Homo sapiens: one gene and its partner. The protein of the gene in region 2 interacts with the protein of the main gene of each other region in a pairwise test. Each region holds a gene or a part of one and is shown on either strand. Other genes may lie near its edges.

Evidence for each region. The genes of interacting proteins can lie anywhere in the genome.
Region 1: the proteins of HMOX1 (region 2) and ARL13B interact in binary tests that used the Homo sapiens proteins (3 or more experiments, as listed by UniProt).

What each region holds. Positions count from the first base shown.
Region 1 is NC_000003.12:94,031,034-94,036,078, reverse strand, and holds part of ARL13B (ADP-ribosylation factor-like protein 13B), read right to left. Parts: intron 749-5,045; coding exon 643-748; exon of another isoform or gene 638-642; intron 1-637. UniProt on the Homo sapiens protein: Cilium-specific protein required to control the microtubule-based, ciliary axoneme structure. May act by maintaining the association between IFT subcomplexes A and B. Binds GTP but is not able to hydrolyze fit; the GTPase activity remains unclear.
Region 2 is NC_000022.11:35,386,566-35,391,610, reverse strand, and holds part of HMOX1 (heme oxygenase 1), read right to left. Parts: intron 4,927-5,045; coding exon 4,435-4,926; intron 1,748-4,434; coding exon 1,648-1,747; intron 1-1,647.

The DNA.
Region 1 (5,045 bases), on a different chromosome or scaffold from region 2:
TTTTTAGAGGCAGTGTCTCATTCTGTTGGCCAGGCTGGAGTGCAGTGGCTGAATTAGAACTCACTGCAGCCTCAGCCTCCCAGGGTCCAGTGGTCTTCCCACCTCAGCCCCCTCAAGCAGCTGGGACTACAGGAACACACTACCACACCCAGCTAGTTTTTGTATTTTTTGTAGAGCTAGGGTCTCACTATGTTGCCCAGGTTGGTCTCAAACTCCTGGGCTCAAGCAATCTGCCCCCTTCAACCTCCCAAAGTGCTGGGATTACAGGCATGAGCTACCATGCCCAGCAAAATAATTTTTCAAAATTCATTATGAATCTCTCATATGTTTAAATTTTGTATTTACACTTTTCTTTCCCATTTTACAAATTTCATGCCATGATGTGTTGGCTATGTTAAAACGCAAATGTGAAGCTCCTTGAAATCATGGAAAGATAGTTCATGGAAATAACAATGAAATAGACAACAAATATTATGGTATTAAGTTATATCAACAGAAAAATGGGAATGTGATTTCATAGGTTACAAAAAATTCTTTGAAAACATTGCCTTTTAATTGCTATCACTTTTATAAAAACCAAGTTATACTGAACCTATTTGAAAGGACAAAAAATTAAAATTAAAAAAAAAAAAAAAACCTTACTATCTGACACAGGCACTTGTGCTCATTGACCAATTTTTCCAGAGATAGACATTCAATGACATCAGCTTCTCCTAAAGCTCCTTCTTTATCTTGTTTATTTGCCAACCTGAAAGATAATTAAAGTACTTTTATACAGCATATATATAATTGGATGGAAACTTAAAGATATTTTGACCACATTCTTTTTTTTTTTTTTTTTTGAGACTGAGTCTTGCTCTGTTTCCCAGGCTGGAGTACAGTGGTGCAATCTCAGCTCACTGCAACCTCCGCCTCCCAGGTTCAAGTGATTCTCCTGCCTCAGCCTCCAGAGTAGCTGGGACTACAGTTGTGTGCCACCACGCGAGGCTAATTTTTTGTATTTTCAGTAGAGACTGGGTTTCGCCATGTTGGCCAGGCTGGTCTTGAACTCCTGACCTCAAGTGATCTGTCAGTCTCAGCCTCTCAAAGTGCTGGGATTACAGATATCATCCACCATGCCTGGCCTGACCACATTCTTTGATTCCCAAGTTTTAAATGTACTGATTACAGAACACACTAGTATCTTAAAATGTTGTAGCATCAATTTTGTCATTTTTCCCTTATTATTGCTAAAATAGTTTTTAAGTACTGGCCTATAAAAGGAAAATCAAATAAAGTGTCAAGAAAACATAAACAAGAGATCAATATGCCAACAAAACAGAAAAAGCTACAAAACAGAAAAATAAGAGGACTAATTTCCACAGGTCACATCCATAAATTATATTCTTATCTTCTTAAAATACAAACTGTAATGTTTTAAATGCCCAAATATTCATTCTGAACTTTTAATATTTGAGCTCATCTACAATTCTAATGTGTGAATGTGTCCACATAAATGTGCAATTTACTGAAGACCCAAGGCCACTTCTAATATACTTGGCAAAGCACTGGGAATTAAAAAAAAAAAAAAAATTGTACTCAATTAGAGACAAACTGGACACCAACAAAATGGAAAACCAATATATTCTACAGAAAAACAGGATTTACCACAATTTACCACTATTTAATTATATAACATAGATTTAAAAGTTTAATAAAATACTGCCTTGCTCAAAGTTTGACAGACTCTTTAGGTTAAAAAAAAAATTAAGTACATAGACTAAGAAATCTAACGAACCCTTCCCACCTATCTTTAAAAATTATCAAAACTGTGTCATTCTTGCTTATCTATATACCTTCTTTTTTTTTGTATTTCCCAAGTTACCATTAAAATCTACATACCTTCTATTTTGCTGCCTGAATCACATTACTTCACCCAGATATTAAAAAATCATTACCATGATACCACTATCACACCTAACAAAATTAACAGTAAGTCTTCAATATTACTCAATTTACTCAATATTCTCCAATATCATTTTACAAGTGTTATGTTTAAATTCAGGTCCAATATACGTTACTTATCACTTAACTCTTTTTGAATCTATATTATACCTGCCCTCCCCACTACCACCCCCATGACTCTTTTCCTCCCATGACATTTGTAATTTTTCTTTAGAATTCCCATGTTTGGGATTTGGCTAATATCTTCCTTATAAACTTATTTAACATACCTATCCTATATTTCCCGTATCTGGTGGTAAGAAGCTGGATGAGTTTCAGATGAAATCTTTTTGGCAAGCATACTTCGTAGGTGGTGCTTGTATTTAGGGAGGCATATAATATCACTTTTATATAATGTCCTATTTTGGTGGTATAAAATTAACTAATGGATTTACATTTAGCCTGATCCATCCAAAATAAAGTTCCTCATTAATCTTTCACTTAATGATTTTAGCAGCCATTGATGACCTTTACTTAATTCTATTATTTTACCAAAGTTTATGAAACAGTAACTTTATAGTTCCATATTCCTTCTGCATTTACTAGCAGGATTCTTGCTAAAAATAAGCTTTCACCAACTACTTGGTGCCTCTTAAAATTCACAAAGTCAAGATAAATGTTTGATCCTTTGCCTTTATTTCCTGATTTTCAAAATAATGAATTAATGGCGTAGCAACCTCCGAAGGTGATCAGGTTGATTTAAAAAAAAAAAATCCTATAAATTTAAGGATTATGAGTGCAGTTTTGTGATGTAAATGTATTGCATAGTGGTGATATATTGCATAGTGGTGAGGTCTGGGCTTTCAGTGTAACCATAAGCTTAATAATGTGCATTGTAGGTATTAATTTCTCATCTCTAACTCCCCTTCCACCCTCCCACCTGTCCAAGTCTCCAATGTCTATTAATCCACACTCCATGTCAATGTGTACACATTATTTAACTTCCACTTGTGAGAACACGCTAGATTTGACTGTTTCTGAATTATTTCACTTTAAAAAATGACCTCCAGCTCCATCCACGTTGCTGGAAAAAACATGCTTTTTTAAATAGTTGAATAGCATTCCATTTTATGTATGTATATACAAAACACACACACAAACATTTTCTTTCATCATCCATTGAAGGACATTTAGGTTGACTCCCTACCTTTGCTACTGTGAATAATGCTGTGATAAACATCTTGAGTTCAGATATCTTTTCTTGTATAATGATTTCTTTTCCTTTGGATAGGTACCCAGTAGTGAGGTTGCTAGACTGAATGGTAGTTCTTTTTTTAGGTCTTTAAGAAATCTCCATACTGGCCGGGCACGGTGGCTTACGCCTGTAATCCCAGCACTTTGGGAGGCCGAGGCGGGCGGATCACAAGGTCAGGAGATCGAGACCATCCTGGCTAACACGGTGAAACCCCATCTCTACTAAAAATACAAAAAACTAGCCGGGCGTGGTGGCAGGCGCCTGTAGTCCCAGCTACTCGGGAGGCTGAGGCAGGAGAAGGGCATGAACCCGGGAGGCAGAGCTTGCAGTGAGCCGAGATCGCGCCACTACACTTCAGCCTGGGCAACACAGCGAGACTCCGTCTCAAAAGAAAAAAAAAAAAGAAATCTCCATACTGTTTTCCATAGTGATTGTACTAATTTACATTCCAAGAGTGTATAAACATTCCTTTTGCTACACAATCTCGCAGACATCTGCTATGTTTTAACTTTTCAGTAACAGCTAAAAATTCTGACTGGTGTGAGATGGTATTTCATTGTGGTTTTAATCTGCATTTCTCTGATTAGGCATATTGAGCATTTTTTTCATATGCTTGTTGGCCATCTGTATGTCTTCTTTTGAAAAATGACTATTCATGTCTTTTGCACATTTTTAATGGGGTTGTTTTTTGTTGTTGATTTCCTTGTAAGTTTTGGTTATTAGTCTCCTATAGGATAAAGAGGTCGCAAATATTTTCCCTCATTCTGCAGGCTGTTTGCTCCATTGATTACTTCTTTTGCTGTGCAGAAGTTTTTACTTAATAATTAAGTCCCATTTGTCTATTTCTGGTTTTGTTGCTTTTGCTTTTGAGGTCTTAGTCATGAATTATTTGCCTAGACCAATGTCCAGAAGAGTTTCATCAGTTTTCTTCCAGTATTTTTCAGGTCTTACATTAAGTCTTTAATGCACCCTGAGTTAATTTTTGTATATGGTGAGAGACAGGGTTCCAGTTTCATTCTTCTGCATATGGCAATTGAATTTTCCTAGCATCGCTGTACCCATCATCTGGGTTCTCTATTCTTTTCCATTGATCTATTCATCTATTTCTATACCAGTACCATGCTACTTTGGTTACAATAACCTTGTAGTATAATTTAAGGTCAGATAATATGATGCCTCCAGCTTTGTTCTTTTTGCTTAGGACTGCTTTGGCTATTCAGGCTTTTTGGTACTTTTTCTTATTTTGAGAGGCATCATTATGAACTTATGGATTTAAAAATGTATTTGATGTGTTTCAATTTGTTGCAGTTATTGCTCTTTTTAAGGCTCAAAGGTACCCATTTTGAGGCAGCAGGAGTCCCCTTCAGGTTGGCTCTTGGACCCTTTTGGTACAACTCCAACAGTCTTTGATAGCTTCTTTATGTTCTACTATGAAACAAGGTTCCAGACTTGCAATCATCCATTTCCCCAAGAAGCCTTGATCTTTTCAGTGGAAAATGGCATTTTAAAGACTAAAACCTAGGAGTTATAGATAAACATTTGCTATTGACTTACTACTGCTTCTAGGCCCTTTCAGTGCACAAAGCTAGGAAATAGTTTTATTCTAGAAAAAAAAAAAATCTAACCATGTATTCGTGTTGATTTTTTCATTTCAAATCAACTACCAAGTTTTACTTAGCTTCTTAAATCTTGTTTTTGTTTATTTCTTTGAGACAGGGTCTCACTCTGTTGCCCAGGCTTAAGTGCAGAGGTGTGACAACAGCTCACTACAGCCTCTACCTCCCAGGCTTGAGCCATCCTCCCACCTCAGCCTCTCAAGTAGCTGGGACTACAGGCGCATACCACTATGCCCAGCTAGTGTTCGAAC
Region 2 (5,045 bases):
AAAAAAAAAAAAAAAAAAAAAAAAGGCCGGGCGCGGTGGCTCACACCTGTAATTACAGCACTTTGGGAGGCCGAGGCGGGCGGATCACAAGGTCAGGAGATCGAGACCATCCTGGCTAACACAGTGAAACCCCGTCTCTACTAAAAATACAAAAAATTAGCCAGGCATGGTGGCGGGCACCTGTAGTCCCAGCTACTCGGGAGGCTGAGGCAGGAGAATGGCGTGAACCTGGGAGGCGGAGCTTGCAGTGAGCCGAGATCATGCCACTGCACTCCAGCCTGGGTGACAGCAAGACTGTCTCAAACGAAAAAAAAAAAACCAAAAAAATAGTAGTAGTGTTATAAAAATGCTTTGTCCTCACAGACCCCGTTGAGGGGATACTAGGATTACCACCTCCCACAGCCAGGGTACCACACTTTGAGAACTGCTTCATTAGGGTGACGTCTCCCTACCCCACCAAATAGCCAAGCCCTCCGGGGTTACAAACCCCTAGCAGAGGGGTCCGTGTGGTCTGGCACAAGTGAGAAAGCCACAAGCCAGGTAGGTTAGGGTGGCACAGGAGGGGAGGCCTAATATAACCTGCCAGGAGGTAGCTAAGCCTTACCTCTTTATTGCTACCCATCCCAAAGCCACACTCCCTCCCTCAGTGTTTTAGGCTTAGTGAGGGTACATTTTGTGGAGCACTTTGGTCTTTTTGGAAGTTTCCAAGATGTTTCAGTACAGCCAGCCTTGATCGTTCTTAGGCACATGAGGGAGGGGCTCACACACAACAAGACTCAGAAGGGACATCTTCCTGTGGTGGGTTCATAGCTGGATACAGGTCCCCAACTCCCTGGCCCACATCAGGGGACCAAAGGCCTAAAAAGGAGTCTAAATTAAGGAGGCAGGAGTTTCCCATGATTTCTGAGGGGTTCTTGTGCACTTCTGAGCCAATAAGCTAGAAGTAGCTGAACCTCACTGGATTTTACGGGTGGGGAAACTGAGGTAGGGAGAAGTCTCATGGCTTGCCCAGAGCCACACGCTGAAGGTTGACCCCAGGTCCTTTTGCCTGCACTCCACTTCTCATACAAAAACACGCAGGTGGCCGGGCACAGTGACTCACGCCTGTAATCTCAGCACTTTGGGAGGCCAAGGTGGGCGGATCACCTGAGGTCAGGAGTTCGAGACCAGCCTGGCCAACATGGTGAAACCCCATCTCTACTAAACATACAAAAAAAAAATTAGCCAGGCATGGTGGTGGGCGCCTGTAATCCCAGCTACTCGGGGGGCTGAGGCAGGATAATTGCTTGAACCCGGGAGGCAGAGGTTGCAGTGAGCTGAGATCGCGCCACTGCACTCCAGCCTGGGTGAGACTCCATCTCAAACAACAACAACAACAAACATTCAGGCTGGCATGGTGGCTCGCGCCTGTAACTGCAGCATGTGGGGAGGCAGAGGCAAGAGGATTGCTTGAAGTCAGGTGTTCAAGACTGGCCTGGGCAATATAGCGAGAACCTGTCCTTACAGGGGCAGTGGGGTGGGGCAGCAGGAAACAACACCCACCACCACCAAACATTCAGAAAACAGAGGAATAGAGATACTACAGTCAGACAGCCAAGTCCCTCCATGTGTAGCCCAGAGGAAGTGCCCCTTCCTGGATGCTCTCACCTTGCACTTTGTTGCTGGCCCGCTGGCGAAGCCCTGGTGCCCGTGAGGGGCTCTGGTCCTTGGTGTCATGGGTCAGCAGCTCCTGCAACTCCTCAAAGAGCTAAAAGACAAAAGACACACATGCCTATCTCAGTGAGAGATGCTACCAGGTCCCAGCTGAAGGTAGGACCTTAAGTTGTGTTAGGAAATACTTTGGAAATAACAAGATGGTAAGAAAAATATTGGCCGGACACGGTGGTGCGCCCCTGTAATCCCAGCACTTTGGGAGGCCAAGATGGGCACATCACGGGTCAGAAGTTTGAGACCAGCCTAGCCAACATAGTGAAACCCCATCTCTAGTAAAGATACAAAAAATTAGCCGGGCGTGGTGGTGCATGCCTGTAATCCCAGCTACTCGGGAGGCTGAGGCAGGAGAAATGCTTGAACCTGGGAAGCTGAGGTTGCAGTGAGCCAAGATCGCCCCATTGCACTCCAGCCCGGGTGACAGGGCGAGACTCTGCAAGAAAGAAAGAAAAGAAAGAAAGAAAGAAAGATAGAAAGAAAGAAAGAAAGAAAGAAAGAAAGAAAGGAAGGAAGGAAGGAAGGAAGGAAGGAAGGAAGGAAGGAAGGAAGGAAGGAAGGAGAAGAAAGAAAGAAAGAAAGAAGAAAGAAAGAAAGAAAGAAAGAAGAAAGAAGAGAGAGAGAGAGAGGAGAGAGAGAGAGAGAGAGAGAGAAAAGAAAGAAAAAGAAAGAAAGAAAGAAAGAAAGAGAGAAAGAAAGAAAGAAAGAAAGAAAATTCATATCCCTTTCATCCACCTTAAGAGATAAGATGTTCCAAGCCCAATTGGCTCCCCTGCCTGCTCTTGCCCTCCCAACCGATAACAATGATCCTGGATTTAGAGTTCACTGTGGCCGCCCATGTCCTTAGCCTGTGTCTCCATGCAAAAGGCTGCGTTGCTTGTTTTGAAATAATATTAAGTGGTATCCTAGTACATGCACTCTTCTGCCGCTGCTTTCTTCTCTTGAGTTTAGATTTGTGAAATTCAGCCTTGGTGAGGTGTGCTGAATGGTATTTGTTAGCCTTGCAGATGAGGAAACTGTAGCTCCTACAGGTTAAGTGCTTTGCCCAAGGACTGATCCAGAGGTCAGGCACTAAGAGCCGTTTTTTTTTGTTTGTTTTTTGTTTTTAATACGGAGTCTCACTCTGTCTCCCAGGCTGGAGTGCAGTGGCGCGATCTCTGCTCACTGCAAGCTCCGCCTCCCGGGTTCACGCCATTCTCCTGCCTCAGCCTCCTGAGTAGCTGGGACTACAGGTGCCCACCACCATGCCCAGCTAATTTTTTTTGTATTTTCTTTTTTTTAGTAGAGATGGGGTTTCACCGTGTTAGTCAGGATGGTCTCGATCTCCTGACTTCGTGATCCACCCGCCTCGGCCTCCCAAAGTGCTGGAATTACAGGCGTGACCCACCACGCCCGGCCAGCCAAGAGCCGTTTTTTTTTGTTTTTGTTTTTGTTTTTTTGGTTTTTGAGACAGAGTCTTGCTCTGTTGCCGTTGCCCAGGCTGGAGTGCAGTAGCATAATCATGGCTTACTGCAGCCTTGACCTCCTGGGCTCAAGCAATCCTCCCACCTCAGCCTCCCAAGTAGCTGGGACTACAGGTGCACGCTACTATGTCTGGCTAATTTTTTCATGTTTTTGTAGAGATGGGGTCTCACTGTGTTGCCAGGGCTGGTCTCAAACTCCTGGGCTCAAGCCATTTTCCTGCTTTGGCCTCCCAAAGTGTTGGTATTATAGGCACGAGCCTGAGAGCCAGTTCTGATTCCAAATCCCTTTTCTTTTAAAAACATTTTTTTCCTTTAAATTTTTTTTTATTTTTTATTTTTGATAGAGACAGGGTCTCACCATGTTGCTCAGGCTGGTCTGAAACTCCTGAGCTCAAGCAATCCGCCCACCTCGGCTTCCCAAAGTGCTGGGATTACAGGCGCGAGCCACTGCACCTGGCCCTTTTCTTTTGCCTACACTTCTCTGAAAGACACAGATTTTCTTCCTCCAAGACGGACTGGATTTTCTGAAGGGGGAGGGTGGAAGGGAAAGGCCTTGTTCCGTAACAGGGGCCAGGACCAGAATCTTCTGCAATCCACGGCTGGGAGTAGGGAGCCAGGAGGGCATGACCCCGAGCCCCAGGCCCCATGGCACCTCCAGGGGGTGGCAGAGAGAGAAGGCTCTATGACATCTGGTTAGAAGGAGCCCCTCACCCCTCCACCTCTGCCCAAGAATTCATCCTTCCAGGCTTTGCGCAAACCCCACCTTCCCCCTGGATTTGAGACACTTGTAGAAAGAGGTAAACCTCTCTGGCTAGGCTGAGAGTCCCTGGAAGGCAGAGGCCACCTGTAACCCTGGGAGTGCCAACCTGGCTATACACTAGTGCACACACAACTTATACATTGCCACAGACTGTTGTCACAGAGAGCTACAACTGATTCTCATGTCCCATTATGACAGTAGTGAATGTTTGAGGGCTTCCTCTGTGCCAGACACTGCTGTGGGGACTTTACTGCTGTAAATTCACTCAAGCCTTATAAGTCTAAGATATAGGTACCATTATTATCCCTATTTTACAGATAGGGAAACTGAGGTACAGAGAGATGAAGGCATTTGCCCAAGATCACCCAGCTAGTAAGTGGCAGTGCTGGAACTCTGGTTCCCTGTGTTAACCATGACCTATAGCACCCTCCCCTACAATGAGAAGGGTCCCTTGGAGGAACAACGGGGGGAGGCAGAGGCTGCCCCAGGCTGCCCGACCCTCACCTGGATGTTGAGCAGGAACGCAGTCTTGGCCTCTTCTATCACCCTCTGCCTGACTGCGGGAGTCATCTCCAGGGAGTTCATGCGGGAGCGGTAGAGCTGCTTGAACTTGGTGGCACTGGCAATGTTGGGGAAGGTGAAGAAGGCCAGGCCCTCGCCAGAGCTGGGCAGGTCCAGGGCTTTCTGGGCAATCTTTTTGAGCACCTGGCCCCCAGACAGGTCACCCAGGTAGCGGGTGTAGGCGTGGGCCACCAGCAGCTCGGGCTCTGTGCGCCCCACCTCGTGGAGCCGCTTCACATAGCGCTGCATGGCTGGTGTGTAGGGGATGACCTCCTGCCAGCGGGGCCCGTACCAGAAGGCCAGGTCCTGCTCCAGGGCAGCCTTGCGGTGCAGCTCTTCTGGGAAGTAGACAGGGGCGAAGACTGGGCTCTCCTTGTTGCGCTCAATCTCCTCCTCCAGGGCCACATAGATGTGGTACAGGGAGGCCATCACCAGCTGAAAGCAGAGTGAGCAGGTCAGGCCGCCAGCCACATAGAAGACCCCCACCTCTGTCCGTCCCGTCCACTACTGCCTTTGGAAAGGCCCTCCTCACTTCGCAGCTGGGCTCTGACTCC